Regions from separate parts of the Homo sapiens genome. Here region 1 is linked to region 2. The links come from fine-mapping of genetic effects on plasma protein levels. A gene starts in region 2. The other region holds a variant in brackets. All regions are shown on one strand. Distances are from middle to middle.

Region 1 (5,384 bases), 30 kb after region 2:
CTTTTTAAGCTTGTAAGTAAAGACAGGAATAACTTAAGAGTACCTTATTGCATGACCGTGTAGCAAAATATTTAAAGTCTGGACTTCTACATTGAAACAGATTTGTGTTTAAATTCTAGCTCCAGGCTGGGCGCGGTGGCTCATGCCTGTAATCCCAGCACTTTGGGAGGCCAAGACGGGCGGATCACAAGGTCAGGAAATTGAGACCATCCTGGCTAACACGATGAAACCCCGTCTTGACTAAAAATACAAAAAATTAGCCGGGCATGGTGGCGGATGCCTGTAGTCCCAGCTATTCGGGAGGCTGAGGCAGGAGAATGGCGTGAACCCGGGAGGCAGAGCTTGCAGTGAGCCGAGATCGTGCCCCTGCACTCCAGCCTGGGTGACAGAGCCAGACTCCATCTCAAAAAAAAAAAAAAAAAAATTCCAGTTCTATCAGTTACTAGCTTGGCTATTTATTCAACCAGACATCGGCTTTCTCATCTGTAAAATGGGGATAATAATAGTATGACTCCCATAGGGTTGCTGTAGGAATTAAATGAGATATTGCAAATAAAACACTTTAACACAGCTCCTAGCACGTCAATTTTTTTTTTTTTTTAAGCATTAGGTAGATTGACTTGGGAAGTGGGAGGGACTTGGTGAAAGAAAGGGCCTAAGAAAAGTCAATTTAAGGATTGTTAAGTAGTAATGAAATCCAGCTAAGGTTATATGAAATCACTGTCACCTTAGATTTATGACTTTCTCATACTTTGTATGGGTTGGAAAATAGTATTGAATTACAGATTTGGCAGTGTTAATAGGGGAAAGGGCAAGTAAGGAATACGGAAGATGAGTTAAGGGTGCTAATATAGAGAACTTCATTGAAATACCTGACTGCTACCTAGATTAGAATAGGAGGTTTGAAGCAAAGCCAGGAGATAGCTCTTGTGCAAGTAGAATTGGGAATGACATGGAGATCTTGAAAAGGTGAAGAACAAATTGGTTAGCAGTGAGAGGAATTATTTAGGTAGAAGAAAAAGTTGTCACAGAATGGAATTTTATAGTTTTGAGATTAATAGAGCAGTTCACTTCTAGAGAGATGTAAAAGGGGAAAGAAGATAGGCTTCTGTTTTTATAATTTATTTCTCATTAAACTGGTACTTTGTAGAGATGTACTTTTTAAATTTTTTTGAAAGTCTGAAAATAGACAAATTTTATAATGATTCAGATACCAAAAGAAGGAACTACCATATTCCATAAATATAAATTAACTGTGGAGTTTTATGTGATGCGATATTAAAGGAAAAACATTGGCTTTTTAAAAAAAGGTCAGGCTTGATTCTTAGGTAGTTTTTTTTAATTGCTATAAACATAGACATTTATAAAATAATAATGGTAGTTAACTATGTACCACATATTGTGCCAGATGCTTTACATGTATTATTCAATCCTTACAACTTTGAGGAAGGTACCGTTATGTATATTTTACAGATGAGGAAACTGAGGTGTATGGGGAAGGATGAGGACACATAGCTAGTGAGTGGGCCTAGCCAACACTGGAACCTAGGTCTGTTTTGACTTGGCAACTCAAACCCTACAATACTACAATACCACGTCTTAAGTATGGGGTGTTGAAAAGAACACTGGTCTAGGATGCCTGGTTCTGCAGCTTATTCTTTCTTGTGATCTTAGGCCACTCATTCTTTTCTGAGTCTTTTTTCTCCCTATGTAAAAATGAGAGGCAGTAATACTCGCCTTGTTTAATTGACAGGATCACTGTATCAAATGAGACAAATTACTATGAAAGTGCTTACAAAAGTAAAATGATATAATGGAAATACAAGAGTATTATTATATATGGTGGGGGGAAATTTTTACTGTCTTCTACAAATCTCTTGCAACAAAATAAAGTAAAAGCGGAGTTCTAGGACATGTAAATATATAGACTTAAAAATTAAACAGAGACTTCCTCTGGAAGTTTTCCAAACAACAAACTTACAAATGCAAACAAGTTACTTTGTTCTTTTTTGAACTTTATTTAGTGCCTAAATTGTTTGTAGGGTTGGTTATTAGTGACTATATGAGTATAGTTAAAGGAGTTTAAAATCTAATGGATTTCTTTTTCTTTTTTTAATGAAGATGATTTGTCATTAATTCGGAAGAACAGAATGGCTCTCTTTCAACAATTGACATGTGTGCTTCCTATCCTGGATAATCTTTTAAAGGCCAATGTAATTAATAAACAGGAACATGATATTATTAAACAAAAAACACAGATACCTTTACAAGCGAGAGAACTGATTGATACCATTTTGGTT[A/G]AAGGAAATGCTGCGGCCAACATCTTCAAAAACTGTCTAAAAGAAATTGACTCTACATTGTATAAGAACTTATTTGGTGAGTTTGTTGGGAAAATTATTTTAGAAATTCTTAGGACTGGCCAGATGCGGTGGCTCAGTTTTGTATTTAGTAGAGTAATGGTTTTTATGTTTTCTTTCCTCAGTGGATAAGAATATGAAGTATATTCCAACAGAAGATGTTTCAGGTAAAACAAAGATTTAAAACCAACATGAACTATTACCCTTTTTTTTTAATGAAGTGGAAACAATTTCACTAAAGTTATTTTTTGTTATTAGGTCTGTCACTGGAAGAACAATTGAGGAGGTTGCAAGAAGAACGAACTTGTAAAGTGTGTATGGACAAAGAAGTTTCTGTTGTATTTATTCCTTGTGGTCATCTGGTAGTATGCCAGGAATGTGCCCCTTCTCTAAGAAAATGCCCTATTTGCAGGGGTATAATCAAGGGTACTGTTCGTACATTTCTCTCTTAAAGAAAAATAGTCTATATTTTAACCTGCATAAAAAGGTCTTTAAAATATTGTTGAACACTTGAAGCCATCTAAAGTAAAAAGGGAATTATGAGTTTTTCAATTAGTAACATTCATGTTCTAGTCTGCTTTGGTACTAATAATCTTGTTTCTGAAAAGATGGTATCATATATTTAATCTTAATCTGTTTATTTACAAGGGAAGATTTATGTTTGGTGAACTATATTAGTATGTATGTGTACCTAAGGGAGTAGTGTCACTGCTTGTTATGCATCATTTCAGGAGTTACTGGATTTGTTGTTCTTTCAGAAAGCTTTGAATACTAAATTATAGTGTAGAAAAGAACTGGAAACCAGGAACTCTGGAGTTCATCAGAGTTATGGTGCCGAATTGTCTTTGGTGCTTTTCACTTGTGTTTTAAAATAAGGATTTTTCTCTTATTTCTCCCCCTAGTTTGTGAGAAACATCTCAATAAAGTGCTTTAAAAAGATTGTGTTACCAGAATATTTTTTCTTTCCTGATTTAAAAAGTAATTTTCATGTGTCTTCCTTGTACTCAAATGCCAGCTATTAAGTAAAAAATTGCATTCATGAGAAATTATTAAGTGTTGTTAAAATAATGTTATCTGTGAAATTTCTTTAGATGACAGTGTCTTGTTGCTTTGTATGTTATAGATACAATGTTGGATGAAAAATGAATCCAACATTAATTTCAGAAAACTCTTAAATTAGATAAATAGGCATTATTTTCAGACAGTAGTGTAATTGCTTTGTTGCATAGGTGTTGATGGGGTGAGGAGGCATACAGGCAATGAATGGTTAGTACCTCCTTTCTGGGTCCAGTCATATTTGACCTTTCTTAGATCTCACTCTGTGGCAGACTTCTGAAGCCAGGTAGATAAGGAAGTCTAATAGTAAAAACTCTCCATTTTTCTTCTCACCTCACAACTCTTTTGGATTCCTTTAGAGAACACATGGGAAGAGTGAGTAAGAATTTCTGTGTACCCCAGTCTCTTCTCTTGCCTTTGTTTCCATCCTGATATGCTGATACATGTATGTAAGTCCAAATGCATATACCTAGGTTCAAGACCTCATGAGAGAAACTCTCTCCGGCCATTATGGAGGGAATATAAAGAGGGAATTCTTTCCTCCCCCTCAAATTCAGTAGACTCAGAACAATGTTAAAACGTTAACTTTTCTCTGCCTCTCATCCTGGACTTGTGATTGCCAAAGGGATAATTAGCTCCGTCAAGGAATCAAATTAGAAGTCCTTTAGTCAGAACAGCCCAATATGTCTTAAGTCATAAAACTAATCCCCCTTGTTGTCACAGGATACTATTACATCTTTTTAAAAACTATTCTCTTTTTTCTTATTTTGCTTATAATAGCTACTCTATCAAGGATCCCATTTGCCAGATACAGTGCTAAATGCGTTAAACAATTGAGATGTGCTGTAGGTTCAGTTGTGTTCCCCGCAAATTTGTATGTTGAAGTCCTAATTGCCAGTACCTCAGAATGTACCTGTATTTGGAAATAGGGTTGTTAAAAGAGGCAAATAAGGTAAAATGAGATGATATAGTTGACTGCTAATCAACATGATTGGTGTTCTCTAAGAAAAGGGGATTAGGATACAGATGCACAGAGGAGTGACTATGTGAAGACACCCGAGGAAGAGGCCTCAGAAGAATCCAAACCTGCCAACACCTTGATCTTGGACTTCTAGCTTCCAGAACTGTAAGAAAATAAATTTCTGTTGTTTAAGCCACCCAGTCATTGGTACTTTGTTGTGGCAGCCTTAGCCAAGTAATACAAACTGCCGTTAATAGATACTTTAAAGCACATCGGCTCTGATCCTTTCAGCAATTTTGCAAAGTAAGATTTGAACACAGATCTGCCTGGCTCCTTAGCTTGTGCTTTTTTAACAAACTGTCCTAATAAGCTATACTTACATTTTTAAAAGTTAACATGGGCTGCCATCTAGTATAACTGTAGCAACTTATGATTTTTATCTATTTATAAAAGAGTTACCTTATTTGGCTTTATTCAGCTAGTCAGTTTAAAGACGTCTGTGTTTTTCACATTCAGTAAAAATAATGCAAAAAATATAACTAAACATAGTGTAATTTATACTTTATCTGCTTGCAAACTTCTCAAATGGACCTGGATTTGAGATTAGGGTTTTAGTCTCTTATCTTTTTTGCCCTCTTAATGATGATAATCAGTGTCCTAGCAGGTGCTCATTATGTTGAGCAGACAGATGAATGTCAGATGCTTTGTTAGGTTTTTTATTGCCTTCCATAATCCTTAAAACTGTAGGAAACATGTTATCTCTTTTTTATAATACAAATGTGGAAATTGAGGCCCAGTGAAACCATGTAATTTGCTAGAGATAACAAGTGGTAGAGTGTGAATTGTATACAGTCCAGGTGGAAGTGGCTCCAGAACATTTACATTTTTTTTTTTAAATCTCTTGCTAAACCATACTTCAGTTTTTGTTTGTTTGTTTTTGAGATGGAGTCTCATTCTTGTTGCCCAGGCTGGAGTGCAATGATACAATCTCACCTCACTGCAACCTCCGC
Region 2 (5,384 bases):
CAAAGACTACTAGGAAAGTATCAGAAAGACTCAGGAGCCAACCTGAGTAAACTCTCACCGGCCTAAAATAAACAACTTGAGCACTAATAGTGGTAATAGCTACAGTGGATTACAACTCACCAAACTTCTTTAAATCCCTGGATTCATAATGATGGCTGTTTACTTTTGAGGGTTTTTAAAAAAAATCCGGCAGAGATTTTTAAATAGTATATGGTAGTGATCTAATTTTATTTTCCATTAGAATAACCATTCATTCAGCATTACTTATTGAGTAATTAATCATTTTCTCATTAATACATAATGCCAGTATATCAAATTCCCAAATACATAGATATGGGTCTCTTCTTGGGGCTCTGTATCTCCTTCCTTTAATTGTCCATCTTAGGGCGTTTAATAATACAAGACTGTCTCAATTACTATGGCTTTATTGTAACTCATTACCTGGTAGGACAAGACCTTCCAATCTTACTTTTCTTCTTCAAAATTGTTTTAAATACTGTAAATTTTTTTTCTACATAAATGTGAAAAACGTTAGAAGGGCAACTGCAGCAGACATACATAGCTTATTTTTTTAAGATTAACAGCAACTTTATACTAGCAAAATGAAAAAAAATTAACTGAATAAACAGGTAACTGAATTAACTAGCTGTAACACTAGACTACAAAGTTATACAAGATTAAAAGTTATGAGGTACTATTTATTATATGTAAATATTACAAATATTTTTTGTTAAAAATATCTAAGGCTTTTGAGTTTTTGAAATGCAAGCTTTCCCCTATACTTAAGTATATTCATTATCTTACTGCTTTGGTCAGGACAAGAACTGAAAAAGAGAAATAATCTTGAGTTCAGAATGAACAATTCTTGCTATATATATTTTCCCACATGTGTTAGGAATGTTCTGTAAACCTTCCGAGAAATAGTGACTTGAACTAAATACTAAACTACTACCAAGCCCCAGGTGCATTTTTGGAAGTTTTTAGTCATTGGGAGCCATGGCATTTCTTTTCTCTGTATTACAAACTGTTACACTCACTTTCTTTGACTATTAACATTGGAACAGTAGACCTCCTGTTCTGTGACTGACTGGCAGGCAGAAATGACACAGACAGGAAATGGGAAATGGTTCAGGGTCTTGGAATTCCCCCGGCTCCCTAATTAAGTGGCTTGCTATTTGGAAGTTTTTTAAATATTTGCCCCTTGGAGTTCCCCAGAGAGAAGCAAGCATCGGATTCAACGGGCAAAGAGCGTCAACTTCAAAAGTCGTTCGTTGGTTGTCATACCACAAACATTTACTGCACGACACTGTGTCTATGGCACTATTGGGGGAGTATGGCGGGGGGATACAAAAGGTCCATGACTAGCAAAAGCCAAGGGTTTTTATTTACAAATTTTCTATTACCTAAGCATTAAAAAAAATTGGGCTCCTCTCTGGTTTATGTACAATTATATGTGCATGTACACCAATACACAGGCAGACGTATATATTTCATTTTATTGAAACATTCAGAAAATACTGGGAGTGAAGCCTGACTTGCAATACAGTTCTCTTTGCTGGCAATGAGCATCTGAAATAATGACACTTTTTTCTTTAGTGCATATGAACTGTTTGTCTCCAGAACAGAAAACCAAAAGTTTAAAAACAAGATACTCCCGTTGACATCAAGTCTTCAGAATTATTCATCTGATGCTTCCTAGTTTCCAAAGTTTCGCTTTTTTCGATTTGCACAGGCAGCTGTTGAACGCTGATGCTACACAAACGGTTACAATTGTTTACTTAAGCAAAAAATGCCACCAGACTGACTCCATCCTCAAAATGCAGTCATCTGGACGGGGGGAGGCATCACACTTGGGGAGCCTTGCCAGGGGCCAGATCATAACCCTGAGGTGACACAGGGTAGGACGCGCAAAACCACCGGCGCCAGGGCGTTTCCGCAGGGTTTCCCAAAACTCAAACGCAGCGGCTCACGGTTTGCCACGTCCCCCAGGAGAATGGTAGACACAGAGAGGAAATGTGGAGAGGGCACAAACCGCAAGGTGAAGAAAACGAACAAACACCGAGTTGATACGGATAGTCCCCGTTCCCCTGAGGGCCGACCCCGTGACTCCCGATGAGCGTCCAGTTGCGCCGGGCATCCTGGCCTCCCAGCGTCTTTCCCGGAGGTTCATCGCCGCACGGCGGAAAGCGCTCTCGGTTCCGCTTTCCGGCCCCAGCCTCCCGGGCGCCCTCGCGCGGCGGCTAACGCTGGTCCTCGGCCGGGCGCGCTGACGTCATCGTGCGTCAGAGTGAGCCCGGATGGGGCGGCGGGCTTCGGGAGCGCCCGGGCTGATCCGAGCCGAGCGGGCCGTATCTCCTTGTCGGCGCCGCTGATTCCCGGCTCTGCGGAGGCCTCTAGGCAGCCGCGCAGCTTCCGTGTTTGCTGCGCCCGCACTGCGGTGAGTGCTGCTCCTTCCGGGCTCGGGCGGCGTGGGGCGGGTGGGGACGCGAGGGCCCGCGGGGGCCCACTTCCCTGATGTGGCGGCGAACGAGGAAGGACGGGGCCTGAGGCCCTTCGGCCAAGGGTCGAGGGTCGCCGGGGGCTCTCTGCTTTCTACTCTCGCCAAGGTTTTATTGGATTCGGAAGCCCCAACTTCGAGACTTGCAGTCAAAGCGATTTTTAAAATGACTTGTTTTCAAGCCTCTGGCCGCCGCCCACTCTTCTGGCCCTTGGACTTTGACCAAGATGTTTTCTCGCAGTTTTTGCAAGGTTTTAAACTTAGCCCTCGGCGTTCTTTTAATGTAATACATTGAAACGAAGATATTTCGGTGGCGGCGATATTTCATATTTCATAGTTGCCACTGCGCTCTGTCATTCCAGTAGTCGTCTGTTGTGTATTGTGAGAAGCAACTCTGGGAAATTATTGGGTAAATCCCATAGTTTCTATTCTTTTCCCTTCCATCCTATCCCCTGCCCAGCTGCAATTTGCGTAAAGAGAATGCAGCAGTGCGGTGCACGTAGATAAAAATCTTTCATTTAAAGATAGGATATAAGACCGGGTGTAATTAAAGCAATCATGCCAGTGGTCGTAGTGCCGGAGCCACTGTTTCACAGGCCACTGTGTTAGGTTTTGTTTTCGAGTTGCTTTCTGTGGTCGTTGCTTTGAAATTGTAAGGGAATGGCAGAGTTTAAGAGTTTATATTAATGAACTCGTGGTGCATTTTACTGCAGTTTTCCTAGTCGTGGAGAGACTTGATATTACAAACTAACGTTGCTGTCTTAATTCCTGCTGTACTGCTGCTGACAGGGTGTAGTGGAGTGTCTGTCTGTCTTTTTAACCAATGTGCCTTTGCCTCCAGCAGAGTGCCAGAGTTACCTTTAGGCCAGAAAAGGGGAGGAGAGCAAGGACAAAATGTTTCCTGTGTGAAAATTTCCATCTGTCTCTGAAGTTGTGCGTTTTAAAGACACGTATAGTTAGTGCTATGGGGAGTATGTTGCATTTACTTATTTTAATTAATAGCTTTTTCATTTAGAAAGTTGTGACAAATTGCTGGAATTAAGATGTATTATCTAAAGTGTGAATTATTCTTAGACTTTACTGAATAAATTGAAGAGTATGTAAGTTCTATTTGGCATGCACATACAGTTTTCTAAAATACTTTTTGTTTTTTCTTTTCAGATTTACAACCCTGAAGAATCTCCCTATCCCTATTTTGTCCCCCTGCAGTAATAAATCCCATTATGGAGATCTCGAAACTTTATAAAGGGATATAGTTTGAATTCTATGGAGTGTAATTTTGTGTATGAATTATATTTTTAAAACATTGAAGAGTTTTCAGAAAGAAGGCTAGTAGAGTTGATTACTGATACTTTATGCTAAGCAGTACTTTTTTGGTAGTACAATATTTTGTTAGGCGTTTCTGATAACACTAGAAAGGACAAGTTTTATCTTGTGATAAATTGATTAATGTTTACAACATGACTGATAATTATAGCTGAATAGTCCTTAAATGATGAACAGGTTATTTAGTTTTTAAATGCAGTGTAAAAAGTGTGCTGTGGAAATTTTATGGCTAACTAAGTTTATGGAGAAAATACCTTCAGTTGATCAAGAATAATAGTGGTATACAAAGTTAGGAAGAAAGTCAACATGATGCTGCAGGAAATGGAAACAAATACAAATGATATTTAACAAAGATAGAGTTTACAGTTTTTGAACTTTAAGCCAAATTCATTTGACATCAAGCACTATAGCAGGCACAGGTTCAACAAAGCTTGTGGGTATTGACTTCCCCCAAAAGTTGTCAGCTGAAGTAATTTAGCCCACTTAAGTAAATACTATGATGATAAGCTGTGTGAACTTAGCTTTTAAATAGTGTGACCATATGAAGGTTTTAATTACTTTTGTTTATTGGAATAAAATGAGATTTTTTGGGTTGTCATGTTAAAGTGCTTATAGGGAAAGAAGCCTGCATATAATTTTTTACCTTGTGGCATAATCAGTAATTGGTCTGTTATTCAGGCTTCATAGCTTGTAACCAAATATAAATAAAAGGCATAATTTAGGTATTCTATAGTTGCTTAGAATTTTGTTAATATAAATCTCTGTGAAAAATCAAGGAGTTTTAATATTTTCAGAAGTGCATCCACCTTTCAGGGCTTTAAGTTAGTATTACTCAAGATTATGAACAAATAGCACTTAGGTTACCTGAAAGAGTTACTACAACCCCAAAGAGTTGTGTTCTAAGTAGTATCTTGGTAATTCAGAGAGATACTCATCCTACCTGAATATAAACTGAGATAAATCCAGTAAAGAAAGTGTAGTAAATTCTACATAAGAGTCTATCATTGATTTCTTTTTGTGGTAAAAATCTTAGTTCATGTGAAGAAATTTCATGTGAATGTTTTAGCTATCAAACAGTACTGTCACCTACTCATGCACAAAACTGCCTCCCAAAGACTTTTCCCAGGTCCCTCGTATCAAAACATTAAGAGTATAATGGAAGATAGCACGATCTTGTCAGATTGGACAAACAGCAACAAACAAAAAATGAAGTATGACTTTTCCTGTGAACTCTACAGAATGTCTACATATTCAACTTTCCCCGCCGGGGTGCCTGTCTCAGAAAGGAGTCTTGCTCGTGCTGGTTTTTATTATACTGGTGTGAATGACAAGGTCAAATGCTTCTGTTGTGGCCTGATGCTGGATAACTGGAAACTAGGAGACAGTCCTATTCAAAAGCATAAACAGCTATATCCTAGCTGTAGCTTTATTCAGAATCTGGTTTCAGCTAGTCTGGGATCCACCTCTAAGAATACGTCTCCAATGAGAAACAGTTTTGCACATTCATTATCTCCCACCTTGGAACATAGTAGCTTGTTCAGTGGTTCTTACTCCAGCCTTT

Direction of the effects. Positions count from the first base shown, and alleles are read on the strand shown. Strength reflects both the effect of a copy and how common the allele is.
For the plasma level of the protein whose gene starts at base 2,275 in region 2, A is the high allele of the variant in region 1 and G is the other (weak association).

Evidence for each region. PIP is the chance, under the fine-mapping model, that this variant and not a neighbour inherited with it causes the effect. Protein levels are from antibody-based Olink assays in UK Biobank. Linkage for the fine-mapping came from a reference panel and not from the study's own genotypes, which makes the PIPs less certain.
Region 1: its variant is fine-mapped to the plasma level of the BIRC2 protein (UK Biobank, PIP above 0.99). The variant lies in the coding sequence of BIRC2. If it changes the protein, the assay may bind it differently, which can mimic a change of level.

Annotation. Positions count from the first base shown.
Region 1 is chr11:102,375,375-102,380,758 of GRCh38, forward strand. BIRC2 (baculoviral IAP repeat containing 2) reads left to right here. Exons shown (of 9, transcript NM_001166.5): 7 at 2,122-2,376; 8 at 2,483-2,524; 9 at 2,616-3,296. The coding sequence ends at 2,809. Among named protein-coding and RNA genes, the nearest start is that of BIRC2, 31 kb to the left of the region's middle. RefSeq lists an enhancer at 1-166. The variant A/G (reference allele first, on the strand shown) is at 2,301.
Region 2 is chr11:102,344,940-102,350,323 of GRCh38, forward strand. BIRC2 (baculoviral IAP repeat containing 2) reads left to right here and starts at 2,275. Exons shown (of 9, transcript NM_001166.5): 1 at 2,275-2,437; 2 at 3,659-5,384. The coding sequence starts at 4,916. RefSeq lists an enhancer at 2,827-2,896.